Linked DNA regions of Homo sapiens. The protein of the gene in region 3 interacts with the protein of the main gene of each other region in a biochemical or structural test. Each region holds a gene or a part of one and is shown on either strand. Other genes may lie near its edges.

What was found.
Region 1: of the proteins of MAP2 (region 3) and MARK3, one has a biochemical effect on the other in vitro, tested with the Homo sapiens proteins (one study listed by BioGRID).
Region 2: the proteins of MAP2 (region 3) and NEFL form a complex in vitro, tested with the Homo sapiens proteins (one study listed by BioGRID).
Region 4: the proteins of MAP2 (region 3) and MYO7A form a complex in vitro, tested with the Homo sapiens proteins (one study listed by BioGRID).

The regions. Positions count from the first base shown.
Region 1 is NC_000014.9:103,485,968-103,494,412, reverse strand, and holds part of MARK3 (MAP/microtubule affinity-regulating kinase 3), read right to left. Parts: intron 2,637-8,445; coding exon 2,379-2,636; intron 1-2,378. UniProt on the Homo sapiens protein: Serine/threonine-protein kinase. Involved in the specific phosphorylation of microtubule-associated proteins for MAP2 and MAP4. Phosphorylates the microtubule-associated protein MAPT/TAU. Phosphorylates CDC25C on 'Ser-216'.
Region 2 is NC_000008.11:24,949,715-24,954,317, forward strand, and holds the end of NEFL (neurofilament light polypeptide), read right to left. Parts: intron 4,592-4,603; coding exon 4,467-4,591; intron 4,154-4,466; exon of another isoform or gene 4,082-4,153; coding exon 3,762-4,081; intron 3,239-3,761; coding exon 3,096-3,238; 3' UTR 1,241-3,095; downstream 1-1,240. UniProt on the Homo sapiens protein: Neurofilaments usually contain three intermediate filament proteins: NEFL, NEFM, and NEFH which are involved in the maintenance of neuronal caliber.
Region 3 is NC_000002.12:209,419,255-209,427,918, reverse strand, and holds the start of MAP2 (microtubule-associated protein 2), read right to left. Parts: upstream 3,873-8,664; 5' UTR 3,643-3,872; intron 1-3,642. UniProt on the Homo sapiens protein: The exact function of MAP2 is unknown but MAPs may stabilize the microtubules against depolymerization. They also seem to have a stiffening effect on microtubules.
Region 4 is NC_000011.10:77,129,801-77,138,245, reverse strand, and holds part of MYO7A (unconventional myosin-VIIa), read right to left. Parts: intron 7,658-8,445; 5' UTR 7,612-7,657; coding exon 7,594-7,611; intron 34-7,593; exon of another isoform or gene 1-33. UniProt on the Homo sapiens protein: Myosins are actin-based motor molecules with ATPase activity. Unconventional myosins serve in intracellular movements. Their highly divergent tails bind to membranous compartments, which are then moved relative to actin filaments.

The DNA.
Region 1 (8,445 bases), on a different chromosome or scaffold from region 3:
TGCCCGGCTAATTTTGTATTTTTAGTAGAGACTGGGTTTCTCCATGTTGGCTAGGATGGTCTCAAATTCCCGACCTCAGGTGATCCACCTGCCTCGGCCTCCCAAAGTGCTGGGATTACAGGCGTGAGCCACCATGCCTGGCCAATCAATGCTAGTCTTTTTTTTTTTTTTTTTTTGAGATGGAGTCTCGCTCTGTCATCACCCAGGCTGGAGTGCAGCGGCGCGATCTTGGCTAGATGCAACCTCCGCCTCCCAGGTTCAAGCGATTCTCCTGGCTCAGCCTCCAGAGTAGCTGGGACTACAGGCGAGCGCCACCACCCCTGGCTAATTTTTGTATTTTTAGTAGAGATGGGGTTTTGCCATGTTGGCCAGGCCTGTCTCAAACTCCTGACCCCAGGTGATCCGCCCCTCTTGGCCTCCCAAAGTGCTGAGATTACAGGCATGAGCCATCCGGCCCAGCCCAATACTAGTCTTAAAATGACTGAAAAAAGAGTACAAAGAAGAAAAATAAACTCAAAGTTTTTTTTTTTTTTTTTTTGAGACACAGTCTCACTTTGTCACCCAGACTAGAGTGCAGTGGTACGATCTCGGCTCACTGCAACCTCTGCCTTCCGGGTTCAAGCAATTCTCCTGTCTCAGCCTCCTGGGTAGCTGGGACTCCAGGCGCCCACCACCATGCCTGGCTAATTTTTGTATTTTTAGTAGAGATGGGGTTTCACCATATTGGTCAGGCTGGTCTCAAACTCCTGACTTCAGGAGATCCACCCGCCTTGGCCTCCCAAAGTGCTGGGATTACAAGCATGAACCACCACGGCTGGCCAGGAAGGAATGGTTTATTCTGGGAGTCACCAGACTCTTCTCAGATTGAACTCACTGTCTCTCTTGCTGGCTGGTCATGAATGGGTGTCCCAAACCTGGCAAAGCTCTTTGGCTGATTCTGTTTTGCCCAGTTTAAAATGAGGTGGCTTAATAAAGGGGCTAAGAAGTGAGTAAGAGGGTAAATAGAAACCTTCTGATGCGTCTGACTTCTAGTTAATGCTAATGGATGTCAGAGATCCTCCCTAATCTAGGCGGAGGTTGAAGTTAGCCAAGATTGCACCACTGCACTCCAGCCTTGGCGACAGTGAGACTCCGTCTCAAAAAAAAAAAAAAAATTAAAAAAAAAAAAAAAAGGAATACTCCCTAATCTATTCCATGTCCTAATAATAAGTAGATCAGACTTTAATGTGACTCACCGAAGTTTCAGATGATCGAATACAAGATTACATTTAGCTTAGTTTAAATAATGGAGATGGAGTGAAATGAAGTAATAGGCTATAGGCCATAGGGAATGCAGAAAAACAGAGGAGGGTACTGATCATTTCAGACTCGGGAAAGACTCCTACTGCTGTCCTGTAAGCTACAGATGACAAATAAGAGGGTCCGTCCTAGGCAAACCTGCAAGATACCACAGACAGACTCATCCACAGCTAGGCTTAATTTCAAAACATTTCTCCAAGGATGTCCTGAAACTGCAGGGGCTCTTGGGTTTCCTGGGCTCCTTCTCGGAAAGGTGCCTTTCACTATTGTTTACGGTTCAAAGTGGTATCCTTTCTTTTTCCTCTTGAAGCAGCCAGTATTTCTGGGCTTTTGTAACAGGTAACAAGGTTACGGAAATGAAGTTAATCTCAAAGGACCCTTGAGAGTTTACTGAGGCCCCAGATGCTAGCCTACTAGACACATGGAACATTTTAAAAAATTTCCAGGACCATCAGCCAAGAATCATGCAGCATTTAATAAAAATAACTTAATAATAGTAACATTATTTTTTGATAATAAACCAGAGATTTTATCTCCAAAACTATACCATTTAAGGACATTACCTTGCTCTCAATATAAATTACTAAGACTGAGAGAGAAACTTTCAAGATTTGGACTCTTAAGAAATTTACTGCTCCTTAACAACAATAAAGTGAGAAAAGAGAAGCTGTCTCTTTCCTCTGGGGCTGGAGATGATTATGAAAGACATGCATGGTCTTTCCTGCTGATTGTTACAGAGTGCCAGCCCCCCACCCCACACCAGAACTCGAGGTCTGCCTGCTCAACAACAACGAACATGCCATGCAGACAGATACGTGAGCAAAAGGAACAATAATTAAAGAACAGTAACAAAAACCTCCTAAATGCTAGTTAACTTTTAGTGTTATGAAGACTCTGAGCTCTACAATTTCTACTTTAAAGGTTTTAAAGTATAAAGTTAGATATATATAAAACCAGAAAACCATGAGCTGAAGGCAGACTGAAAAGCATCCAGGTAGCAGTGGCTTCACACAACAAAAAAGACATCTTTCCTTTTGCTCTATGTGTTCACTCCAAAACAACCAGCACCTAGCACTTACCTCCTTGTGAGTTTTGAAGTTAATTTACTAAAGAGATTAGTGGAGCCTCGGCTTCGAGTCTGGGACAATGGTGTGGCTTCATGGGACAGGCTGGGAGAGGCAGGAGGGCCATTATATGTTGCGGTTCGCCGTTCCCGGGGCTGGCCGTGGAAAGTGCTACGACTGGCAGTGCCTCTTGGGAAGCGGATTCGATCTGGGGTGGCTGCACTACTGATACTGTGTGTTGAAGCAACTGGAGTTCTCTGATCAGGAATAGTGCTATGAGATCAGAAAGTAAGAAGCTCTCAGAACATGATATACAAAAATTTACAGTCACAATATACCTTTTATACACAGTGGAGAAAATCGGGTATAAAAAATCCAGATCCAAGGGGTATTTTATAGGACTTAGGAGCAAAAGGTAAGTTAAGTGGGAAAGGGTACCAAAAGAACAATACATAATGAGACAAAGCCTCATGGAGTTTAAGGGACCAGTATTATATATATTTTCAAGGACAAGATTAATGCAGGGAAATTCTAGGACAGAGAACAGCTAACTCAAACTTTTCCCCTTTGCTTCCCTCTCAAATTGCTTACATAGAGAACTGTGCCAATACGAAAGAAATAAAGGATATGCTGGCGTAACTGAAGAACAGGCAACTAAAAAGTTTTGGAAGTAAACAAATGATATATGTATAAAATTCCACATGCTGAAAGCAACTTGGGAGGAGCAGGAACTTCTTATACATTTTGTAGTACGCGAAGGCACGAAGACACACAATACACAACCGAGGACATCATGACAAAAGATGTGCTTAACTAAAATCACATGGAGGAAGGACGCCTTGTGGACAACTGTAACAAAATCTCAGACTATAAAATCCACAGCACAAAATTAAGAAGCAGTGGGTACACATTAGTTTCACAAAGAATGTGCATTTTTCTTACATAGCCTTGAAGTTATCTCCTTCACTGTCTATTGGAGGTAACATCATCTTGGGGTGCCCAGAGGCTGACATGGACATCGACTTCTGATGTCTCAGCCGACAGGTAGATGTACAAACTGAGGCAGGGCTAGCTGCGTAAGCGAACATTTCTGTCAGGCTGGGAGGGGTTTGGGTTCAGGCAGAGGCAGAAACACAGTATGAAGGAGCAGTGACCACAGAGCAACCTGTGTGTAATGCACACACCTTCCTCCCAAGCCATCTCATTTCTGGTAAAGAATAAAAATCTCCTAAGCTTGTTTTGGAGATTCTGGAGCAACTGCTAACCTATAGTTGCTTTTTTTTTTTTCCAAACAGTAATCATAAAAATCTATTACCTTAAAATAAAATAGCAGATTACATGTTTGAATATCTGTTTCTATGAGAGGGACAATGTCCTCTGAGGGTATGCACAAAATAAAACCTATTCTAAGAGATGCCTCAATTCAAATCTAAGTGGTAAAATGAATATATAATATGAGCATGCTATGCTCTCAACCTGTTCCCAAAACACACTGACATATTTTATTTTTTCTTTATTTATTTTTTTTGTAGAGACAGGGTCTCGCTATATTATCCAGGCTGGTCTTAAATTTGTGGCTTCAAGTGATCCTCCCGCCTTGGCCTTCCAAAGTGTTGGGATTATAAGTGTGAGCCACCACACCCGGCCCGCACTGATGTATTTTAAATGAATTAATAAGATTACAGGTATAGGAACTAGCTGTTATATAACAGTATCCTATGTTGTTTGGTGTTTTTTTGAGACAGGGTTTTGCTGTCACCTAGCTGCAGTGCAGTGGTACGATCATGGCTCAATGCAGCCTCAACTTCCTGGGCTCAGGTGGTTCTCCCACCTCAGCCTCCTAAGTGGCTGGGAATACAGGCGCACTCCACCATGCCTGGCTAATTTTGTATTTTTAGTAGAGAGAGTTTTGTCATGTTGCCCAGGCTGGTCTTGAACTCCTGGGCTCAAACGATACGCCTGCCTTGGCCTCCCAAAGTGTTGGGATTACAGGCATGAGCCACCATGCCCAGCCTTCCAATGTTGTTTTAACAATATAGTCTAGAACCTTCCTAATCAAAGGACATTTACTCCAAGATAAAAAACAGTCAGCAGAGCCCCCTTCTCCAAGATGGGCAAATTCATCAGAGCAAATTAACTGTTAACAGACATGGTAAGATAGAGTGGCTGGAAGTCTGCAGTTTCATCTAACACACACAGTTACCGGACAAAACTACCCCCAGGAGTCTCACTGGGACACATTATTTGGAATTCCAGCTCAGTAATCATGTCCTTGGAATTCAAGGGCAGTTTCTTTCCTTTAAGGATAAGTAGGAATACAGCTCTTCCAGTGTCTTTCTGCAGAAATCCTTTGGAAGGATTAAAACCTGGAAACTGGCAAGTTCTTCCTTTCCCTCACTCCCCATACACAGACTAACGACATCTTATTGGTGTCAACTTCCTAGTAGCTCTTCAGGTGGCCCATCTGCTCCACTTCTACCAGGGCCTCAGTATAGAGCCTCGCTCCTTGTCTTCACTGGGTCCCCTGCCTTTGCCCCAACACCTCCAATCTATTCACCTTACAGCTGAGAACTTCTTAACATATAAACCAGATCTTGTCACTCATCTGCTCATACTTCTACAGAACACCAAGTCTTTGGTAAAAAGTTCAGTCTCCTCGACTTGGAGTGCAAGTACACATCCCCAGGCCCCTGAAGTCTGGCCCCTGCCATCTCTCTAGGCTTTGCCTTCTATCATTCCCTCCTGGAACTCAACTTTCTAGCCTTCCTGATGATGTGTGGTCCATTGGTCAGGCACCAGGTCAGAAAATGTTTGCAGGAGTTATTCTCTTGGTATGGAGGGCTGGGATCTTTCTATTCACTCTTCAAAAATGAACCAGATGTCGTCATCTCTATGAAGTGTTATCTGATCCATTTTCCCTCTGAGAGTTAAATCACTTCTGTTTTTAGCTCATGCATGCCACATTGTATCCTAGTGACCCTTCTCTGCTGGAGGTCCCTGAAAACACAGCCCAAAATCTTGTCAATGTGCCCCCCACCAGTGTAAGCAGAAAGCCTGGCAGGGCAGGTATTCAACAAACGTTCTCCTAACAGAGCAGATTAATCAATTAGCAACTGGAATTCTGATAGCCCCAACATAAAGCAGATACGTCTTTAAAATCAAGAACTGCTTGTCCCTGAATTAAAACATTTTTATTTAAATTTTTATTTTTGGAGACAGGGTCTTGCTGTATTCACCCAGGCTAGAGTGCAGTGGCACTATCACAGCTTGCTGCAGCCTCAACCTCCTGGGGTCAAGCGATCCTCCTATCTCAGCCACAGGAGTGTGCCACTATGCCTGGCTAATTTTTAAATTTTTTGTAGAGATGGTGTCTCACTATGATGGCTAGGCTGGTCTTGAACTCCTGGGTTCAACTGATCCTTCTGCCTCAGCCTCCCAAAGTGCTGGGATTATAGGCCTTGTGAGCCACTGTGCCTGGTTCTGTCCCTGCATTTTTGTTTGAGAATTCTGCTCTCTGACTTGGGAGAATTTATACAGTCTGAGAAGGACTGGAAACAAATGTCTTATAAAGGCAAAAATTTATCCAGTTTCGTATTTCTGCCACTCAGTATCCATTCTTTTCCTGCAGCAACAATAATGAGATTTTGCTGTGGTGGAAGTAACTCTAGGCCCCACACAGATCAAGGAGACCACCTGAGGGCTTCTGCTTGAGCACAGCTGTGTGTGGGAAGAAGTTATGTCTGATGGTGCCGAGCCCAATCATGGAACTACGGCCAAGGAGGCAGAAGCAGATGGACCGTAACTCTAGCCCTGGACTTTTTTTAGTTATATGAACTAACAGCCCTTTTATATTTAAGCCTGTTTAGACTGGGTTTTCTGTCACCTGCAACAGAGACAGTTCTAACTGACTAAGGTTTTTAAAGAAATGCTCGGTTGTTTCTTGTACATGTGTACAGACACACGTACACATGAATGCACACAAATGTTATTTATTTTTTTTTTTTTGAGACGGAGTCTCACTCTGTCGCCCAGGCTGGAGTGCAGTGTGATCTCTGCTCACTGCAAGCTCTGCCTCCTGGGTTCACGCCATTCTCCTGCCTCAGTCTCCCAAGTAGCTGGGACTACAGGCACCCACCACCACGCCCGGCTAATTTTTTGTATTTTTCGTAGAGACGGGATTTCACCATGTTAGCCAGGGTGGTCTTGAACTCCTGACCTCGTGATCCACCCGGCTCAGCCTCCCAAAGTGCTGGGATTACAGGTGTGAGCCACCGCGCCTGGCTACACAAATGTATTTTTCTAACAAGATACAGCTAAATACAACTATCTCTTGTGCCCTTACCTTTCAGGGTGAGTCCAGGGTCAACACACTCTACCTCCAGTTGTTGACTTTTTTCTTGCCCAAATTAGGAGCTAGTATCAGTAGATGTGCCAAGAAAAGCAGGGGAAGAAGATGCAGGAGTTGTTTGACCCTTTCCCTGGTGAATACAAATGGTCCCAAAGTCTTTGGAGAAGGAAAAGGCTTTTAGTCAGCTTGCAGGCAGGAGGGTGCTGCATCGATTCCCAATGAAGCACACTGCTGACAGGCCAAGCTAGATCTTTAAGGCATACAAGCATGGTAAGAGGGTGTGGACAGATGCTTTGCAGAAAAAAAATGGATCCTCTAGAGACCTAAGAAGGAAATGTAAATTTATTTTCTCATTATAAATTAAAAAAAAAAATTTTGTAGAGATAGGGTTTCGTCATGGCCCAGGCTGGTCTGGAACTCCTGAGCTTAGGCAATCCGCCCGTCTTGGCCTCCCAAAGTGCTGGGATTATAAATTATTAACTTGAGGCTGGGCGTGGTGGCCCACGCCTGTAATCCCAGCACTTTGGGAGGCTGAGGCGGGTGGATTGCTTGAGGCCAGGAGTTCCAGACCAGCCTGGCCAACATGGCAAAAACCCATCACTACTAAAAATACAAAAATTAGTTGGGTGTGGTGGCGGGCCCCTGTAATCCTAGCTACTCAGGAGGCTGAGGTATAAGAATCGTTTAAACCCGGGGGTGGTAGCTGCAGTGAGCTGAGATCATGCCACTAAACTCCAGTCTGGGTGACAGAGAGAGACTGTTTCAAATTAAAATAAATAAATAAATAAATAAATAAACTTTTTGACATACTAATTTTAAAGGCAATTAAATAAACTTTTTAGAAATTTAATCCATGTCACATCATGAGTTTCACAAAGCAAGCAACAAAATATTTCCGATTTTTCTGATTTCTACAGTAGGCCTAACACCCAGAAGGAAACAGTAAACTCAGTAAGATGTTTGCAAATTTCAATTTTGTACAATCAAGCTCACAAAAATCCTATTTACAACAGGCAGCCCCAACATCACAATGGTCTACATATATATTCTAAAAGGTCATCAAGCTAATTGTTATGAAATTCGAATAATATTTCCCCCCAGAAAAGTGTTAAAAATGATAGTTTTATTTCCTATTCTAGCCCACAATCTACATAAGCAAAACAGTAGCAGCATTACATTTTTTTAATAATTAAAAAATTTTTTTAAAGTTTTTGTGGGTTCATAGTAGCTGTATTACATTAATTTTTTTATTTTTATTTTTTTGAGACTGGGTCTGGCTCTACCGTCCAGGCTGGAATACAATGGTGTGATCTCGGCTCACTACAACCTCCATCTCCCAGGCTCAAACCATCCTCCTGCCTCAGCCTCCCAAATAGCTGGGACTACCGGCATGTACCACCACACCTAGCTAATTTTTGTATTTTTAGTAGAGATGGGGTTTCACCATGTTGGCCAGGCTGGTCTTGAACTCCCGACCCCAGGTGATGCACTTGCCTCGGCCTCCCAAAGTGCTGGGATTATAGGTGTGAGGCACTGTGCCTGGCACCCAGCTAATTTTTTTGTATTTTTGGTAGAGATGGAATTTTACCATGTTGCCCAGGCTGGTCTTGAACTCCTGGGTTCAAGCAATCCTCCTGTCATGGCCTCCCAAAGTGCTGGGATTACATGGTGGCGTGAGCCATCATGCCTGGTCTACATTTAAACCTTAATTGATAGAAATAGCAATGTTTTTCT
Region 2 (4,603 bases), on a different chromosome or scaffold from region 3:
TTCCATTCAGCCATTTAGCCTGGACTTCTAAAATAAAGCAGTAAGGGTATTTCAGGAGATTTTGAATTATGAATCTAGAATGGATCTGAAATGTCCACCACTGAACCCTTGTGTAGATAAGCAAATTGAGGTTGGGCAGGAATGGCCAATGTTCCATAATAGTGCAAAGCTAGGACCCAGGATGGACTCTTGATTCTTGGTTCTTTGCTCTTTCTACAAGAAGGTATGGACTAGACTGGGACTTATTATTGAACACTCTTGACTTGCCAGTCATCTTGAAGGCATTTTAATCGATGGGGAAAGTCACTCATTAAATAAATATCCACTGTGCTTCTACTATGGCAGGAACTATGCTGGATACTGGGGCTAAATTAATGAGCAACAGAGATCTGATTCTAATACTTGTAAAGATCCCACTGTAATGGGGGAGGCAGACATTCATCAACTGATCACACAAATAGATGCTAATGGCAAGAATCAAAAAGCCTACAAAGTCTTATGTACATATTTCAAAGAATTTGACCCACTAGAAGAGGTCAAGGGAGGCTTCCTTTAGAGAATGACATTTAAGCCTAAATCTGAAGGGTCAGTAGGAACCGGCTGGGCAAGGCTGAGGGAAGGAGAGAAAAGATGAGTGCTCCAGAAAAAGGAATCACCAAAAATCCTGTGACAGATGGGAGAACAGAATACCAGGGTGACTGGAGTGCTGGAAGTGGAGGGAAAGGGCTGTACAATGGGATGAGGTTAGAGAACTAGGCAGGAGTCAGCACTAGGCAGGCCTTGAAGATCACATTTGAGATTTTGGTTTTCATATTAAAAGTGGGAAACTATTAGAGGGTTCTATTCAGGGAGATGCCAAGATCAAAATTTTCTTTTTAAAAGATTAGCCTGCTGTAGGGTGCTAATTGAAGGAGACCAAGAGTAGGCCCTGGGAGAAGGGTTAGAGTGGTGGCAGTATAAATTGAAAGATGTGGAAGGATTTAAGACATTGAAAGATGTGGAAGGATCTAAGACATGGAGGTGTTCTCACTATAACTCTGTGATAGGTTAGTGTAGAGGGGCAGAGGAGAGGTAATGGGAGGTAGGATGTCATTTAAGGAGTCCATTTAATGGAATCAGATGATTATAGAGAGGGGATCATTCATTAGGAGAGGGAATACTGAAAGAGAACTGCAGGTTAAAAGGGGCACTGACCACAGTACCAAATTTGGGGAAATGTTAAAAAAGACTTTAAGCTCAATTTAGGTTTTTTACTATTTTATTATGGCACACAGGATAGAGGATGGTACAGTTTTCTTACTTCAACCAAGTAATTCTCAAAGCATCCAGCTATTTCCATTTGGCTAAAGTTACTTTTTGCACATAGCTTGCATCTGTTTGAGACTTACCATGTACATCAACCCAGGTCTAGTAAGCAGAAATGTGAAAAGTTTTGTTTCTGAGGAGACGCCTCATCTTTACAGAAGCCAATACACTGAGAGCCTTCATAGTTCCAATCCATTACCATCATGGCAAGGAAGCACTTTACCTATTTGCATAGCAACATATATTTAACTAGAAATAGGTGGTACAAAGGGATTAAGTAACTTTAAATGGAGACCACTTTGGTTTCAGGTTAAATTAATAACTTATAGAGATCGTCTAAAAAACAAATATTGAATGAAATTAGCTGACAAAGCAATTGTTTCAGAACAAAGGCAGAATAGCAGATAGTAATATCATCTATATTTATTCCACATCAAATGCAAGAGCGTTCTTAACTTTACGACAGAAAGGATACATGGGGCGTGTATTTGATGCAATGTCCAACCAGTCAAGCTATCATTGAAATCCAAATATCTCCCAGTAGAGACATGCAGAGCAATGTCAATGTAACATACAAGCATATTACCTCCCCCCTTAAGTGACTCATAATTTCATTACTTGTGTCTGTAGCTTTTAAAGGTTTAAAAATGTGTAGCATTAAGTGGTATTTACTTGAGGCAACAGAATTACGCTTAACAACACACTAAATCATGAGCTCAGGATTGCAGGCAACATGTTTGCAGTGGAGTGGCAAATAACCTTTGGTAGTTTTAATCCCTTCTCCTGAAATTATATATAGATAAAAAATTATTCCTTCTTATTGTACCATGTTCTCAGGTTTTAACCTCCTCCCATGATATTTAGACTATATTTTAAAATGCAGTTATAGGGATGAATGTATGGGATTCATATTCTATCCATATTGCATTGTGACATATCAGTTTGAAATGACCTATTTATCATGGTTCCATAGTGTAATGGTTAGCACTCTAGACTCTGAAATGACCTGTTTACCATAAAGAGTGTATCTGTCAAGTAATTTCAGAATTGCTCCCTAGAAAGCCATCCCAAAACCTAACACAACACGTGTTATGAGGCAAAGTCTATTGTTATTTATAGACTTTCTCATTTACTCATGTTTATTATCAGTAAAATTTTTGTGGGGAGAGATTTCACAAGTAATCATGACATAACTGTATCCCTCAGAATTTCCAATTGAAGGAAGAAAAAAAAGTATTGGTAATTGTTAAAATTTCAACTTTTTAAAAAATTGGAGGTCAATAGTCCACTGGTATATACTTTATATTGGTGCCATCTTTAAGGTATTTTAATTAAGTAACAACCACAGCAAAAAATACATCATTCGGTATAACTTTATTTACTATTTATTGCACATAACTCAGGGTCTTTAATTGCTAACCACCGAAGGTTCAAAGGACTATTTTTCCATGAAGTTTAACATTAACATTAGTGAATTCATTTACTCATGTGGTGTTTTTTATTGTAAACATCTGAATGATTCACATTGCCGTAGATCCTGAACTCATAAGCGTGGTCCATGCACAGGCTGGCAGCAAGCCAGAAAGCCACTCTGCAAGCAAACAGATACTCTGCATAAAGAGGAAATTCATAGCACAACATTGAATGTCCAACCTAAGTCATCTCAGAATTATACATATATTGACTTTTTAATTCACATAGAATCTGGAACTCAACTGGTTGGTTGGTTGGTGATGGGGTTGACCTGATTTCGGGAGAATTATTCCTGAAATAATTAAGGAAATGGGGGTTCAATCTTTCTTCTTAGCTGCTTGTTCCTCCCCAGCACCTTCAACTTTCTTCTCCTCCTCTTCAGCTTCTTTGGTTTCCTCTCCTTCTTCACCTTCACCTCCTTCTTCTTCTTCTTTTGCTTCTTCAGACTCTTCCTTGGCAGCTTTAACATAAAAAGAAAATGTACAAAATGCAAATCCAGGGTAAGTCCAGTCAAAACATGTCTGCAAAGGTTTTATTTGCAAACACAACTGTCAGAATGCTACCAAAACCTCCCAGCTCCACTCTCTCCAAAAGCACATGTAACAGACAAAGCTTGCCATGAATAATTTGCCACTGAACACATATTTAAATCGAATGAGATCACTTCTAGGTATGGGAAGCTCTGCTCCTCTCCAAGACTTAACCTCAATATTTCTTTCATTATGTGTCTGGTATCTATTTTTGTTCTTTAGGACACCAACCTGCTGTGTTAAATGATTATATTAAAAAATGAAAATTTTGACCAATCACCTCATTCAGAGTAGATGCCTTAGGAAAGTTTTGCTAAACAAACAGAAAATTTATTTATGATTCTAATGTCATATATGAATAAATGAGCAAGGCTTCATTTGTCTTATCCACCTCCTAACAAATCTCCACACCCAGTTTACACTTGAAGTTGCAGGGGTTTTTTCTTATCATACCTTCTTCCTCTTCAGCTGCCTCCTCTTCCTCGGCCTCTTCCTTGTCCTTCTCCTCCTCCTCGGCTTCTCCTTCAGAGGGGGGCTCATCCTTGGCTTCCTCAGCCTTGGCAGCCTCAATGGTTTCCTCCACTTCGATCTGCTCCTCTTGGACATGGCTGGTGTAGTAGGACGGGAAGGAGCGGGTGGACATCAGATAGGAGCTGGTCTGTAAACCGCCGTAGGCAGATCGGCCAAAGACCTGGGAGCTCTGGGAGTAGCCACTGGTTATGCTTCCCACGCTGGTGAAACTGAGTCGGGTCTCCTCGCCTTCCAAGAGTTTCCTGGGGATGCAGATGCAAGGTGAGGTTAAAAAACACCTGTGTTTCACAACTTGCTCTGAGTACCCTAAACACAAAGGCAAGCAGGAGCAGGGCTGGGATTTATCAATACTTAATGCCTGGGGATCTTTTGATGGAGACCAGAAAAAATATAAATAAATCATCCTATTAGATTTAAAGTGTAATGACAAGATAAAAACAGGACTCCTAATTACAGGGTTAAATTCTTATATATCTAAATACCCTCTTCTTGGAAGAAGCCAAAAACTAACACTTCATTATTTCAAAAGGACTATTATTGAAGGTTTCTGATCCAACATAACTTTAAATGGGATCTGATTTTCTTCCTAAGGTTTAATGGCTGCTGTCTTTGCCCCTCTATTTTCACCTGTAAGCTGCAATCTCAATATCCAAAGCCATCTTCACGTTGAGGAGGTCTTGGTATTCTTTTAGGTATCGTGCCATTTCACTCTTTGTGGTCCTCAATTCATTTTCTAATTTGTTGATCGTGTCCTGTTTGAAGAC
Region 3 (8,664 bases):
TCTACCCTACATGGACAGCTTTTAATAGCTGAGAATTTGCTTTCATTCCACATCTTCCTCTACGCCCACCCACCTACCCACCCACCCAAACCTTCATACAGACTGTCTCCCTTGACTTTGGCCTTTTGTGTACTACATATTAATTTGCAGACTTTTAACTGCTTTTGGTGCCTAGAATCATTTTCTGCAATTGAAAACTGAGAATATCAAAAGTTGTTTCTCATAATGAATAAATAAATACATAAATGGTAATAAGTGCTCTCCTTAATGAAAAATAAAGGCCAAATTTGTATCAAGAGAGTAACATTACTGAAACCAAAATAGCTAGAGAACAGTAAGTCTAACATCCAAATGTCGAATTAAAAAGAATGATGTGAAGGGAGGGAAAATATGGTGAAATGATCAAAATACAGTCCTTACATGAAAAGGTCTAGATTGAGTAGATAAAGGTAATGGCAATAGTAAAGAGATAATTAAAGTAGCAAAAACACTTGATATATCTGAGAGAATCAGATATGACTCAAAGAGTTTATTAGCATCTTTAACTAATCTATAACAGAGACAAAAAAATTTGAGATTGTTTCAAAACTGTTATCTTCAGGTTCATGCATTTACTAATGACTTACCTAAAGTGACTACTTTTAGCATTAAGGAGGATAGTATTGATCTGGGGGTGGTGCTATCTTCTACTGTAACTATTATTTCAGATTCTTTATCTTAATCTGTTAAGAGGAAATTAAGTATTGAAAGGATTCAATAATCAGAGTTACCAACTTGAATACTAAAATCCCCATGTCAGTTTCATATGGTCAGTCTCAAAAGGACATCAATGAATCACTGAAGGATGCACCTATTGTCCTATAAGCAAATGTAATAATGATTTTTTAAAATGCCAACAGTGCAACTACATTTGTTAATAGCATGTCCAGTCTGTTGTCTAACTGCTAGTAAAATTCAATACAAAATATGTGTGTGTGATAAGAAAATACACAAAAATACACCAACATTTTTCTTCCTTTTCCCTTCTGATGTTTAGAAAATTTGCGAACTGGTTTAAACCAAAAGGGGTAAAGGAATGAAATTATTCCTTCAGGCTTAGAGGATTCTGTGCCAAGTTTCATTTCTGGCTACATATTTCTAACCAAGTTCAAGATCCCTGAAAAGGAATACATAAAAGAGAAAATATCCCTTTAACCTCAGTGGAATGACATTAGTAAAGGCTGCTATGGGAAGAGAAAGGCTTTTGCCCTGAGATGGGTGTGCTCCTGGTGTTTGGTTTCCACTGAGAGGATGCCTGCTCTCTCAATGAATCTGAAGTACCTACTAGGATGAGGTAATGGCTGTGCCAGTTTCACTGGGTCATGCTCTTTCAGCACATTCTTTCCCTGTCTCCTCCCTGAGAAGGTGCTGTAAACAAGTCATCCTGAGAGGTGCTGCAGAGAATGAACAATCCTAAATTCAAAATTCTTGAAAACACTGGCCCTCCTATGGCAGTATAGAAGACTAAAGCAGCCATAAAGAAACAGGTTATTTGATTAGAAAAGGGAAAAAAATAAGAGAGGAGATAAATAAAATAAAAATTAATATAACTAAAATATTATTTTATAAAAGGTAGCTCTATTTTTAAATTACTTAGATCTTCAGATGTGTGTTAAGCAATTTTCTACTTATGGTTTTAAAAAAGAAAACTTTGGACATTAAATAATATTGTAGCAAACTGTAAAATATGAAAAATTAAAATTAAATAAACCACAGATAAACAGCATGTACCACTGATCCTAAAGCCACAATGGCTCTGATAATATACAAATCATGAATGCAGATGTACACCTATGATAATCAGATGAAATTACCAGGAAATCAACATAAACATACACACACAAATATAATAATCCTTACTGAATGAGAAAAATGCCTTTTTTCTTGAAGGAAGGGTTCTTTGTGTGCATGGGGCTGGGGCTTTTGGAACATCCATGATTTGCAAATTCACAAGGATTTCTACCAAAATACACCTATTGCCCGGTTAAAGGGCTGCTTTGTGTTATATTCTGATGGAAGGCTGTAATCTTTTCCCTGGGCATAAAATTAAAAGCATTCTAAAGGGCTTCTATTTATTCAATCTATTTGACTGCCAAAAAAAATCATAATTGTCCACAGTGAAATGACATAGTGAAAGAACTATGCTTTTGAACTGGGCTGGTACCTGCAGCTCATGCATGGGACATTTTGCATAATGTGGCTCACATAGAAGGCTTTGTTCTCCATCGCCTCACTGTGGCTGCAAACCTCAATTTCAGTTTGCAATCATTTCCTTTTCTAGACTGATCATTTTAAAATAAATTATACCTTTAACATTTAAATTAGTTCCTTACCAACAGTCATCAATCCCTTTGCCTCACACCCAAAATTATATACCACCCAACAATATTTTTTTGTTTTGCACTACAGATTTTATTCACAACATAATTTCCAAACCCTCAAATACAATTTTAAAAAATCAGTCTCTTAAGTACCTATTTCCTTTTGTAACATGTATATAGTGTATTATACATTTGTGTGCATACTTGTGTGTTTAGGCATTTAAACAAAAACCCTTTACACCGGACTCAATTTTAAAGCGTCTATGTCCTGGAAGCATTGTGCTAAGAGCTTACGACAGATGGCACACAGCAATTGTCACAAACGGGCTTGTTGCTAATGAAAGCTTTTTATTTTCTGACAAAAATCCTGAAGTCCGGATGCCAGGCAGAATAACATTAATTTCCAGTTTTCAAGGATTTTTTTTCTGACTCCATCCATACCCCTCCCCCTATACACACCCAAATATACAGCTCCCCACTCCTAGCCCCCCACACACTCTTTCTTGAAATTTCCATCCTTAAACAAAAGACGAGGTGGGGGAAGGCAGGCAGCCAGCACTGCAGTCCTCCTCTCCCCACCAAAAAAGCCTTTTAAAAAGAAAAGGAAGAAAAGAATAGATGCACTGTAGATTCAGAGGTCCACCCCCAACGTTTAAAAAGAAAAACGACTGTGTGGAAGCCTAACCAGACTCATTTCTTCGTGCCCCGCCCTCCAACACCACCAGGCATTTATTTTTCATTTTCCTACAATTATAAATATCAGTCCTCCTCTCCCAGCTGTTTCTGAAGGAATTACAGAGAAACATGATTTGAAATGGACAAGGCTTCCCTCACTCACTCACTTCCCAGTGTGCAGTTCTCTGCAGCTGGATGAACAAAAAAATCCCCTACCTCGATTTCCTATTTTCCACTATCTTTGTAGAATCCACTCCCCTTCTTTCCACAGCGCAGGTAATACTGGCTTTCGATACACGTATTCTAACCTGGCGTAAGTTTTCAGTTGTTTCAAAGTGGTACCTAACAAGCTCACTCGCTCTTCTACGAAGCCAGGGCTCAGGTACCAGTAGCGTCCGGCCCCCTGCTCCGCAGTGACACCTGGAGAGGACAGGCCCGAATCTTCCGCCAGGTGCACGGCTGGCCACTCGACCAACTACCAGACTGCCTGCTGCGAGTCCCAGAGGACGAGACACAACCCCTCCCCATTCCTATCTCTTTCTACTCAGAGACCGAGGCAAAAGGAGAGGCGCCCTACATAGAGCCAGAGGTGGGGACGGTCTCTTACCTGGGCGCAGAAACTGGATGCACCCGCGGTCGCGACTGCCACCGCTCACGGACTTAGCGCCCTCCGGAGAAAAAGGAGAGGGGTAGAAGGGTTAGGGGAAGAAGGGGAGGGGGGGGAAAAAGAAGGAGAAGGAAGAGAAAGAAGCGGAAGGGAAGTAAAGGAAGAGAGGATGCTGCTGCTGCTGCTGCTGCTGCCCAGAGCCCGCGCAGCCCGAGCGCCCGCCCCAGACTGAGAGCGGCGCCCCCAGCCGGCTCCCAGCGCAGCAGCTCCGCCTCGGCCCCTCCTCCCCGCCCCGCGCAGGTCCCGCCCCGCGCAGGTCCCGCCAGACTCCGCGAGCCCGTGGGCGGCCGCGGCGGGGCTGGCGCTGCCACCGCCGCAGTGTCCGGGAGGGGGAGCACGACCGCTTCGCCTTCTGCCGCAGCCGCCGGCCGCCAGGCGGGGACCGCGAGGTGGGAGCCTCGGAGAGCCCCGCCCAGCCGCTGGCCCGGGCCTTCTCCAGAGCCCTGGTCCCCTCCCGCGACAAAGTGAGGCCAGTGCCCGGGCGGCGGGACAGGCGGGCCTTCCTCACTGGCGTCCTTGGAAAATCGGGGGCAACAGCTTTAGTCTCTCGGGAGCAACCTCCGCAGACCCCCTGCTTCCCTCCCCTGTGTCGCTATGAGGCGGGGTTGCCAGTGGCACCTCACCAGGAAAGCTCACTGGCCTCGCCTCACAAACCCAACCACAGGTGCATCCAGAAAAGACAAAGGAATGTGGGGCGCTTGAGAACATAGAACAACTCTTGTCAGCACTAAAGGAGCAATGGCTGAGGGAGTAGAGAATTCTAGACCCAGCTCTGTCACGAATTAGATTCATTCATTTATTGAGTCAACGAATGTTTATTGACACCTACTATGTGTCAGGCACTCTTCTAAGCATTAGAAACATCAGTGACAGACCTTTCCCACAACCCTAATAAGAAAGATCCCCTCCCTTTATAGTTATTACATTCTAGATAGCCAGACGTATGCTCTAGAGACAGTTCACTTAATCTAACTCTCAGTGTATTCATGTGTCATATGAGAACTAAAAATGACAGCCCAATTCTCTTATGCTTAAAAAGATAATGAATATGAAGGATCTTTGAAGAATGATACAAATACAATGAATTAGAAAGCACGGAAAGTGTTGACCTTGAAATATCACCCTTAAAAAAATTGCCTCTTAAATGCTTTTGAAAGTGAAATGACCACCTGAGAAAACAAATGATTCTTTACCATTCGTACTAAGGAGTATGAATCTTCATAATCAGAGAGCAGCATTTTATTGTAAGTAAGAAAAGTAAGATGCAACTTAGAATTACTTCGAGTGTCTATATCAAGTACTGACAAGGTGTTTTTAAGGTCAGCCAACATACTGAGGTGTGGCTTGTACAGTCTTCACAGTGCTGATGAAACAGCAGCCATAATGTGGTTCTGTCACTTAAATTAACCACAGAATCTTAGAACCTAGAACATTAGAGTTGATGTTTTAGGCAGCTGGTCTAATTTCCTCCATTTTCAGATGGAAAGAGACCCAATGGTGGGAGCCTGCAAGGATTAGAAACCATCACAGAGGAAGCTGTGAAAGCCTGCCCTCCCCAGTCACACCCAGTGCTCTGTGTCCTGCCTCCCCCGCTCTGCTTCATACCATGTGCCAGTGACGCTTGCAGTGAGTTTGGAAGTATCAAGGCACACCCAGGAGCTGGGAGGTTGGAGGAGTTGATGCTCCTCCTCGGAAGATGGCCTTACTGAGAAGGAGGTCTTAGGAGACTAGGAAATCATAGACAGTATGTGGATGGGAGGAAGGAGTAGGCATGCTACCAGAGTGTTAGCAGCTGACATTCATGACCAGGCATGCAGGCGCAGGTGCTCAATGAGAGTAATTTTCCAGGGCCAGGAGCGGTGGCTCACACCTGTAATCCCAGCAGCTCAGGAGGGAGTATCGCTTGAAGCCAGAAGTTTGAGGGTGCAGTGAGTTATGATTACACCACTGCACTCCAGCCTGGGTGACAGAGTGAGACCCTGTCTCTAAAAAACAGCAATAAAAAAGACATTATTTCTCTGATAGTTTAAAGTACAGTGTTCCTCAGCACTTTTTGTTTTTGTTTGTTTGTTTGTTTGTTTGTTTTTTCCTCCACTTTAAGATTAGCTGAGGCAGCCAAACTCTAATGGCTTTTCTCTTTGGGGAACCTGGTCCTTATATGGGAGATTGCCTCCTCTCGACACACATCTTAGAGTTCTTTCAGAAAAATAGCATCTATATGTTGTAATTCAATAGAGAGAATTTAATATGGGGAACAAATTACAAAGGATTCAAATGACTAAAAAGCCAACTAGGGGATGATGAGGCAACACGATGATAGTTACTAGCAGGAAAGTACTACCACTCTCAGGCTGGGGAGTGCTAGAGAGGAGGCTTTACCAGGAATGAGGAGCACAAGCTACATTAAAGGAACTGAGACCACAGTGGAGATGCTTACTGGGAGACAGATAATGCTGGAGGGTCCTCCAAAAGCTGAGAGTGAAAAGAAATATTGTGGCCCTCCTTTAACCTGTATTTCAAAACCCTGTCATTGGGTGAACCTAGAAGAAAGTCAGTTGACAAAGCAGCCTAAGAAATACAGTTTGCAGGAGTCAGTGCCCTGGGATGTCAAACAACTTTAGGAGGGGACTCCATATGTTTAGGCTTCTGGTTTAAGGAGGGATCTTTGTGTTGAAGTGAACTTTTTTTTTTCCCTCAGCAAAGCATCCCTTCCTTAGAGTAATGATCCTTTTCATATGATTCCCCATATGCTAGTAAAATGTGTGCCTCTCTTCTCTTTCTCAGAGGTGGACATGTGACCCTGGCTAACTCTATAGTAGAACCTGTTCTCCTAATGTATAGTGATTGATACAGGGTGGTCATATGTCCCAAATATTTCCAATCAGGCTTTTTTCCATGAGATGTGTCATATGAACAATAGTGAATCGGATGGTATAGGTATAGAGTTGTCAGTGACTGTATTTCCTTCCATGCAGAAAAGCAATGCTGAGAGATGGAGAAAGAACACTTGAAAGACTCCATGGATCCTGCTACGTCTCAAGGTAGAAATGCCATTTTTCAAGCCAATAGATTTTTGTTTCTTTTCTAAGCTTGCTGTAGTTGGATTCCTGTCATTTTCAACTGAAGAAGCCTTGACTAATACAGTGCTGGACTCCAAAAAGTAAACCACAGATAGAAAGAGCCTGCCAATATTGATTTCCACAATTACTTGTCTTGTCTTCAGGCTAAATTCTTGATTTGTATTTATTTGGCCCGGAGGATTACGTACATAAACAACCATACCCTTTTCTCAGGGACAGGACTTCTGATAGTTTCTCAGTCAGAAAACCATCAGAATAAATGTATTTCTACTGATTAGAGAAAGGTCTACTGGTATATAGGAAGTAATGAAACCTTCTCCCCAGAGAGTCAAGGAGTAGGTGAGCCTTTGAGGAGGTTGTACTGCATAGTGTTAAGAGCACCAGACTTCAAGTCAGATCTGAGGGCCCATATTTGCTGTTCCCTGCTTGTGTGACCTTGGGTACATCTCTCTACCATTTTGAACCTCAATATTTTTATTAGCAAATGAGGAGACTCAACCACATGCCACCTAAGGTCACTTTAGTTTTATAAAGCTATGAGAAATTATAGCTCAGCTGAGGATTTGCTTATTAAGTTGATGAACATTAATTAAGTGGCCCCTAGAGAAACAATGAGCAAGGTTCATACATACACAAACAATGCTGATACAATGTGCAGCCCATCATAGAAAAGATGTGGATGCAAGATGCAGGTATGACACTGAAGAGCAGACACACATAAGTCTTTTACCTTCTATGTGTGAAATGGGCTTTTTGTGTTTTGTTTTTAATTTCTTGACCTTTTCTCTATGGATGACTAGAGGCACATCTATCAAAATTTCTATCATGTTTCACAAGTTTTGACCATTGCAATGGCTTTAAAATTTAAAAATGAGCTTTGTAGTATGGTCTCCCATTTCCAATTCTATGCCTAGTTCATTGAACAGGTGGTGAAATTACCATTGACTTCTTCTGGACCATAAATGTATCATTCTGTTCAAAAATTTTGTTGAGGTATAATTTACATTCAGTTAAAAGCACAGATCAGAAATGTTCAATCTACACCTTCAGCCCCAACCCATAGAGGTAACTACACTTTTGATTATGTTTCTCTGTGGCTTCACTTTGCATATTCTTGGAATTCCTATAAAAGGATTCAGACAATATATATTATTCTACATCTGGCTTCTTTTGCACACATATTACTTTTGAGATGTATTCTTTATTTTGTAAGTTATCTGCAGTTTATTCCTTTTTATTGTTCAGTAGTATTTTATTGTATGGATATACCATATTTTGTATATCCATTTTCTAATTAGTGGACATTTGGGGTTATTTTCAGTTTCTGCTTGTTAGTAATAAGGTTGTTATGAACTTTTATATAAGATTTTTTGTGGATATGTTGTTGTTTCTTTTAGTCATATACCCAAGAGCGAAATTTCTGGGTCGAATGGTAGATATATGCTTGACATTTTTTTTTTTTTTTTTTTTGAGACGGAGTCTCGCTCTGTCGCCCAGGCCGGACTGCGGACTGCAGTGGCTCAATCTCGGCTCACTGCAAGCTCCGCTTCCCGGGTTCACGCCATTCTCCTGCCTCAGCCTCCCGAGTAGCTGGGACTACAGGCGCCCGCCACCGCGCCCGGCTAATTTTTTGTATTTTTAGTAGAGACGGGGTTTCACCTTGTTAGCCAGGATGGTCTCTATCTCCTGACCTCATGATCCACCCGCCTCGGCCTCCCAAAGTGCTGGGATTACAATGCTTAACATTTTAAGAAACTATTGAAGTATAAGTTTTCAGTACTGCTGAGTAGACTTTTACTAGACCTTACCATCCCCCAGATAACATCTCCTGTAGGGGTGAAACAACCAAAACCAGAAAGCACTGGAATGTAAACAAAACAGG
Region 4 (8,445 bases), on a different chromosome or scaffold from region 3:
CCCGCCCCGGAACCCTAAACCGGGCCATCTGCTGCGGGCCCATGGCAACGGCGGCTTAGGTGACGCCCGCGGGCGGGACGGCGAGGGGGCGCCCGCGCCACCCCGGCCCCCTCCGTCTCGGCCGAACCCCCCACAGCCCCACTTTGCCCGGAATCCCAGGCGGCTTCACTGGCACCGCGGCGGTAGGCCCGGGATAAACGTGGCACCTGGCACCGCACCTGACGGCAGTTTTGGAAAAAATCGTCATGTTTTTTTCTATGTTTTCCATGGAAGGAAACACGAGGATGTTATGGACTAGAACGCGGTAAACTCCCGGGGTTTTTAAGACTAAAGGAGAGATGCATTGAAGATATTTCTGGCTCCCTGGCTGCCTCTGGGGAGTGAGGGCAGATACAGTTTCCTTCTGGGGTAAGTTTGGGGGAAAGCCCCTGAAGAGGCTATGTCCTCCTCCCGCAGCCCCCGAGGTCAAATAGCAGCCCACGTCCATCCTGCAGAAGAGGCCTTGGAGGCCTGGTGTGGGGTCCCCTGAACTCCCCAGGACAGCTGAACCACCTCGATGGCTCAGAGCTCTCCCTGCAATGGGCCAAGCTGGCCTCCTGTGTCCTAGCAGCCACACAGGGCTGGACACCAGGCGTCGGTCCACGCTGGGCTGTGAGCCAGAGGCCACCGTCCCATCCCGAGGGTCCGGAAGGCCCAGGCCCTGTGACTCCTCTCCCATTCCCTCCTTCTCGCCTTGCCCTGCCTATCTTTGTCCTCCTCCCCTCTTTCCTCCTTTTTCTTCCTCTTCTCTTTTCAAGGCCTCCAGTCTGCATTTGTGGCTCTCTGCATTGCCTAGTATCCTGGAAGCCAACTGCTCCCCAACGAATGAACAACGGCAGAGAGTGGGGGCGGGGGACTGGGTGGGGGGAATGGCAACGAAAAAGACGGTGATGCCTCACACAGGGCTCAGAGCCACCCAGGATGGGCCCAGTTCTACCCCACTCCCTGTCCCAGCCTTGGGAACCCAGGGCTCTGCTGTCCAGCACGAAGCTGACTGATCAGTGATTCCCACTCACTTCCTGTGACCTCTCAGGGACACCGCTCTCAGGAGAGGTCCTTCCCCCAGTCAAGCCGAAAACAGGCACACCTATCTCTCCCCGCCCATCTATAGCAGTACATTGGGACAGGACCCAGACCTCAGACACAAGGAAGTGCTGGTGGTGAGCTTCCAGGCATTCTACCACGAGTTCATATAACCGACCTTCACTGAGTACAGGTTCAGACTAAAGTACAGAGGACACTGTTAACAAGACATGTCCTCAGAGCTCCCAGCCTGGTGTGGTGGACAGACCCAGGCACAGATAAGGATGGTACCACCAGATAAGAGGCAGATCAGTCCCGGAGACATAGGATAGCATGGCCACTAAGAGTTTGGACCCTGGAGTCAGATGGCTTAGTTTCAATCCCAGCTCAGCCACTCACAAGCTGTGTTACCTTGGGCAAGTTCCTCAACCTCTATGTTCCTTTCTTTCCTCATCCGTCAGGTGACAAAATGACACTGCTTCCACGTGCTCGTGAGGATTTAACAGGTTAAGATGCGTAATGCACCTAGATTGGTGCCTGTTAGACCAAATGTATATGAGTGCCAGCCATGGTTAACTAAGGGAGTCGTGTTAGGGGTGACAGCTGGGTTTTAAGATTTTTTTTTTAGGCAGACATTAGGGGAAAGGGCATCCCAGGAAGAGGGAACAGCAAACTCAGAGAATCAGAGGAGAGAGGGAAGAGATTGTAAAGTAAGTCTGGCGGCTGGTGGCTAAAGAGAGGTCCCCTGGGGGAGACCCTGCAAGGTGCTAAGAACCTGACCTTGCCTGGTTCCAGAACGACTACTGAGACCACCCTTGAGCTGGAGGAATAGGCCTCTTCTCCACAAGTGGCAAAGACAGAGACTCTTGAAAGCAGCAACAGAGAGGTGACTCATTCTATACAACGAATCGTTAGTATGAGTCTCGGCTGATTTCTCATCAGAAACCACGGCGGCCAGAGGGCAGTAGGATGGCATATTTAAAATGATGAAAGAATAAAAAAACTGTCAAGAAAGAATTCTATATCTGGCATAACTATCCCTCACAAAGGAAGGAGAAATGAAGACATTCCCACGTAAACAAAAGCTGAGAGAGTTTGTCACTAGTTGACCTGCCCTATAAGAAATGCTAAAGATTAAAAGACATTGAACAACAACAAAACAAACAACCCATTTCAAAAGTGGGCATAGGCAGGAGTTTGATGGCACTACTGTACACCAGCCTGGGTGACAGAGTGAGACTGTGTCTCCAAAACAAACAAACAAACATAGGCATAGGACTGAAATAGACATTTCTCCAAAAAAGATATACAAAGCGACCAAAGGCACATGAAAAGATGCTCAACATCATTCATCATTAGGATAATGCAAATCAAAACCACAATGAGATACCACTGCACACCCATTAGGATGGCTATTACAAAACAAAACAAAACAAAACAAAACAGAAAATAAGTATTGGTAAAGATGTGGAGAAAATGGAACCCTTATGCACTGCTGGTGGGAATGTGAAATAATACAAATGTTGTGAAAAACACTATGGCAGTTCCTAAAAAAATTAAAATGAGAATTACCATATGACCCAGCAATTCTACTTCTGGATATATACTCAAAAGAATTAAAAGCAGAATCTCAAAGAGGTCTTTGCACACCTATGTTCAAAGCAGTATTAATTATAATAGCTAAAACATGGAAGCAACCCAAGTGTTCCTCAATAGATGAATGAATAAACAATATGTGGTATAAACATACAATAAAACGTTACTCAGCCTTAAGACGGAAGGAAATTCTGACACATGCTATTAATACAACATGGATGAACCTTGAGGATATTATGCTAAGTGAAGTAAGCCATCACAAAAAGACAAATAGTGTATGATTCCACTTATGTGAGGCACCTAGAATAGTCAAATCAAAACCAGAAAGCAGAATGGTGGTTGCCAAGGGTGGTGGGGAGAGGGGAATGGGGAGTTATTGTTTAATGGATAGAATCTTTATTTTACAAGATGAAAAGAATTGCAGAAATTGATAGTGGTGATGGTCACACAACATTGTGAATGTATTTAATGCCACTGAACTATGTACTTAAAGTGGTTAAATGGGGCCAGCCATGGGGCTCACTCCTGTAACTCCAGCACTTTGGGAGGCTGAGGCGGGCAGATCACCTGAGGTCAGGGGTTCAAGACCAGCCTGGCCAACATGGTGAAACCCCATCTCTACTAAAAATACAGAAATTAGCTGGGCATGGTGGCAGGGACCTGTAATCCCAGGTACTCAGGAGGCTGAGGCAGGAGAATCACTTAAACCTGGGAGGCAGAAGTTGCAGAGTGAGCTGAAATCACACCACTGCACTCCAGCCTGGGTGACAGAGTGAGACTCTGTCTCAAAAAAAAAAAAAAAAAAAGTTAAGTGGTATATGTTGTTATATGTATTTTAAAAAATACAAAATTGGAAAAAAAAATAGAGTACAGTAGACAGTGATGCAAAGCCATACAAAAAAATTAAAGAACACTGGTAAGGGCACTTACATAGATAAATAGAAAAGTCATATTTAACCAGGCACAGTGATAGGCGCCTGTACTCCCAGCCACTTAGGAGGCTGAGGCAGGAGGGCTGCTTGAGCCCAGGAGTTCAAAGCTGTAGTATACCACAATTGCACTTGTGAATAGCATCTGCACACCAGCTTGGGCAACACAGTAAGACTCCATCTCTTTAAAAAAAAAAATGTTGTATTTTTGGTCTGTAACTACTTTCTTTTCTGTGTGATTTAAAAGACAAATGTATAACATAATGATAAATCTATGTTAACTGGCACACAATGTATAAAGATGCAATTTGGACAATAAATAACATAAAGGGGGAGAGATAGAACTATAAAGGAACATAATTTTTATTTATTATTGAAGCTAATTTGGCCTTAAACTATATTGATGCAGATTTAAGATGTTATTTGTAGGCCAGATGCAGTGGCTAACACCTGTAATCCCAGCAGTTTGGGAGGCTGAGGCAGGCAGATCACTTTAGGTCAGGAGTTTGAGACCAGCCTGACCAGCATGGTGAAACCCTGTCTCTACTAAAAATAAAAAAAATTAGCCAGGTATGGTGGTGCACGCTTGTAATCCCAGCTACTTGGGAGGCTGAGGCAGGAGAATTGCTTGAACCCAGGAGGCAGAGGTTGCAGTGGGCCGAGATTGTGTCATTGCACTCCAGCATGGGCTACAAGAGTGAAACTCCATCTCAAAAAAAAGATGTTATTTGTAAACCTAAGAATAATCATTGAGGAAAAAACTTTTAAAATACACAGAAGAGTAAATGAGAATCAAAACAGTACTTTAGAAAAAAATGTCAATTAAACACAAAAGAGCAGTAATGAGGAATTGAGGAGGAAAAGATATAAGACATACAGAAAACATAGCAAAATGGCAGAGGTCCTTCCTTAACAGTAATTACTTCATGTGTAAATAGATTAAACTCTCCAACCAAAAGGTAAAGACTGGCAGAATGGATAAAAACAAAACAAAACAAAAACCAACCACATGATCTAACTATATGCTGCTTACAAGAGATCCACTTTAGATCCAAAGACACAAATAGGTTAAAAGTAGAAGGATTTCATGCAAATAGTATTCCATGCAAATAGTAACCAAAAGACAGTTGAGATGACTACACTATCAGACATAGATGTTAAGTCAAAATCATTACAAGAAACAAAGAAGGACATTATATTTTACTAAAAGCATCAATCCAACTGTTATCAACAGCCCACAAATTTATCTTCAAACCTCCCTCTGCCCACAAATCTGGGCCAAGTACACAGAGTCCCTACCCTGGCACCACCATGAAGCTGGGAATCATGACATACTGAAGCACAAAAGCCCTCCTTGTGGTCCTTAAAGATGTGAGTCAGGTGTGCCACACAGGTGCGCCACTAGTCAGCTGGGCTAGTCCTTCTTCCAGAGACCTCAGTCCCTGTATGTTCATGAGAGGCTGCTGCAGCTGTCTCATGGCCTTCCCTGTCCACCCTCTCCCAGGGAGGGCAGAAGGCTCTCCCATTCCCAGGTGCCCTCTCATCCCCGTGCCCCCTGGAGACTCACTGTCACAGTGCCTTTCCTAGGTTTCTAAGCTGTCTCCCCACATAGGTCTGGGAACTCCTCCAGGGCAGGGAATAGTAGGTGAATGCCTGCTCCTCCTGCCTTCAAGCAGGAAGTATGCTTCAGCTGCTTCCTTGGTCCTAAAAAGAACCCGAGCCCCGGGAGCCGACCCGCTCTGCAGTTCCACAGGCCGGGCCCAGTGGGCTCCATCTTGTGCTTTGCTGTTGAGTAAGAGGGCCTTGGGCACATTACTCAGCCTTCCTGAGCCTGTTTCATCATATGCAAAATGCAGATTAAAAACCTCTATCCACCTGGTGCGGTGGCTCACGCCTGTAATCCCAGTACTTTGGGAGGCCGAGGTGGGCGGATCACGAGGTCAGGAGATCAAGACCATCCTGGCCAACATGGTGAAACCCCGTCTTTATTAAAAATACAAAAATTAGTTGGACGTGGTGACGGGTGCCTGTAATCCCAGCTACTCAGGAGGCTGAGGCAGGAGAATTGCTTGAACCAGGGAGTCGAAGGTTGCAGTGAGCCAAAATCATGCCATAGCACTTCAGCCTGGTGACAAAGCAAGACTCTGTCTCAAAACAAACACACACACAAACAAACAAACAAACAAACAAAACCCCTGTTTTCCCACAGCTGCCATTGTGAAGCTAAAATGCCATTTGGGACTCCATGAAAATGCTTCTTCCTTCATCTGCTTCCCTGGACTGCCTCTCTCCTCCTCTCTTCCTGCCAGTTCCTTCCCTATCCTGAAAGATCCACGGGAAATGGGATGAAGGCTGTCCCTCATGTCCAGGGCTCATCAGGAAGCCCCAGGTAGGCAGAGAAAGGAGGAGGACTGTGGACCAGGCCCTGGGGTTTGCAGAGCAGGGAAGCCTCCCGAAGGAAGTAGAGGCTACACTGAAGCCTGAGCAGAAGTCAGCCAGGCAAGAGGGGAAGCCAAGCACTCCGTGGACCTTTCAGGACCGGGAAGGATGTGGCAGGAAGAGAGGAGGAGAGGGCAGACCAGGGAAGCAGAGGAAGGAAGAAGCATTTTCATGGAGCTCCACATGGCATTTTAGCCTCTCATCGGCAGCTGTGGGAAAAGAGGCTTTTAATCTTCATTTTACATATGAGGAAACTGAGGCTCAGGAAGGCTGAGTAACGTGCCCAAGGCCCTCCCACTCATCAATAGCAAAGCCTGGGCTGGAGCCCATTAGGCCCGGCCTGTGCAACTGCAGAGCTGGCCGGTTCCCCAGGGCTGGGGCTTTCTTCAGGACCAAGGAAGGAGCTGAGTGTACTTCCTGCTTGAGGGCAGGCAGAACAGGCATTCACCTACAAGACACTTGCTCCCAACAGAGGCCACCCACAGCTGGAGGTGGGTCAGCGTTCAGAGGGGCAGGAGAGGAGGGGGTGGTGAGGAGGTCCCATCAGCCAGAGGCCTGCCTCAGAGGCCCCCTGAGGGAGGACGCCCCTGGAGGGCTATGGGGGCCCAGGCCCTGGCACACAGCAAACACTCAGCGAATGGACTTTTCCTCTCCTAGATCCTGCCCATCTCTAATGGGCGTTTGAACAGGCTCTCAGGCCAAGGGGCTCTAAAGGGGGTCTCCTCCAGCCCCTGGGATAGAAGAATGTCTGTCCTGATGCTGCCCTGAAGCCTGCCTCTCACTCACACACACAGACACACACACGCGCACGCACTCATATGCAAACATGCTGGTCCGTGCAGCCTCAGGGTGGCCAGGCAAGGCTGAGCCATTGGCCTCTGGTGACCCTGGAGACCGAGAAGCTGCTGGCCAAGCCCCCATAATGCACAGCCCCACAAGCCCTACGGCCTGCTGCCAGGCCCACCTGGCTCAGGGCCCACATTCCTGGCTCCTGCTCTGGAGGCCAGGAGCTCATTAGAGCCTCAGACTGATCACGGGGAAGGGCTGAGGGTCAGAGGCCACTGTGGCCCTCAGTAGGAAGGGGGGCTGGAGGACTCAGCTCGGGCCAGCACCTCTGCTTCTTCCCATAAAATCCCAGGGGGCTCCAGCTCAAGCCTTGTCACCCCCCGCCCTCCAGTCACTGCTCCCCAAGGCCCTAAGAATAAGTTGGGCTCAGGGCCCTTCCTGGCCTGGCTTTGGGAGCCTTGCCAACCTCCTCTCCTCTTCCCCAGGGACCTTCCCACACCTGGGCCTTTGCACATGCTGTTCCACTGCCTGGGATCCAGAGATGTGTGTAAATAAACTCATTTCTGCCCAGTGGGGTGAGCCAGTGAGAGAAGGAAACCCCAGCTGGCACAGCAGAGGGAACAGGTTTCAGACTAGGCCTCAGCCTGGAGGGCTGGGTTTGGAAGCCTAGGCAGGAATTTTCCAAGAGAACACCCTGGGGAGGGTGTCCCACGGGTAAGCATATGGATGAGGGGATATGGCCTGGGGAGGACAGGCCACCCAAAGAGGTGGGAACACTGACCTGCTGAAGAATCACCATGGTCCCAAGTCAGGAGCTCCTGCTGCCCACTGGGCCAGGCACAGTTCTGCAGGGAGAGAGACCATGTCATGCTTCTGGGCAGGCCAGCCCTGGAAGCCTTGAGCCTGGCTGGGGTCACCTGGGCTCCTCCCAAAGCCCCAGCTCCTCCTCCCTCAAGGGAACCCTCCTTGGCTTCTCTCCCTCTGACCACTGCCCAGCCTGTGTGACCTGAGCCTCAGCCACTGTCACCAGCACCACTGCCCAGAGCAGCTGAATTCTTCTCTCAGCCACTGTCATTCAGAGATTCCCAAAGGGCTCCTAGAAAGTAGCAAGTCTGGCCCCACCAGGGACCTACGGCAAAGGGGCCCAGAGAGGGACCAAGACTTGCCCAGGGTCACACAGCTAGCCAGAGCAAATTTAGGACTAGGACTTAATCTCCGGCACTCAGCTTAGGGACTGCCCCAGGAATGTGGGTGACAAGGACAAGCCTGACTGAGCAGAAGGTCAAGGGCTGGGCATGACCTGCTCACAGCACACCCTGCCTGAAACCTCTCAAGAGCACCCACTGCCCTCAGGATGGCTCTGTGCAGAGCACTGGCTGCTGACGGGGAGGCAGGGTCATTGGGGTCTGTCTCTGGCTGTGCTGCTGAATGCACCGCACCTGGGCCTGGGCCCGGGCCCGGGCCCGCCCCGCTAGGCCCAGCACAATCTGGCCCCTGCTGATGCCTCGGTCTTTTCTCTCACTGCTCACTCCCTTTCCTACCCTTATACTTGGACATCCTCAGTGACTCACTGTTCCTGAAATACGCCAGCTCTTGCCATCTCCTGGCCTTCACACACTGGCCCTTCTACCTG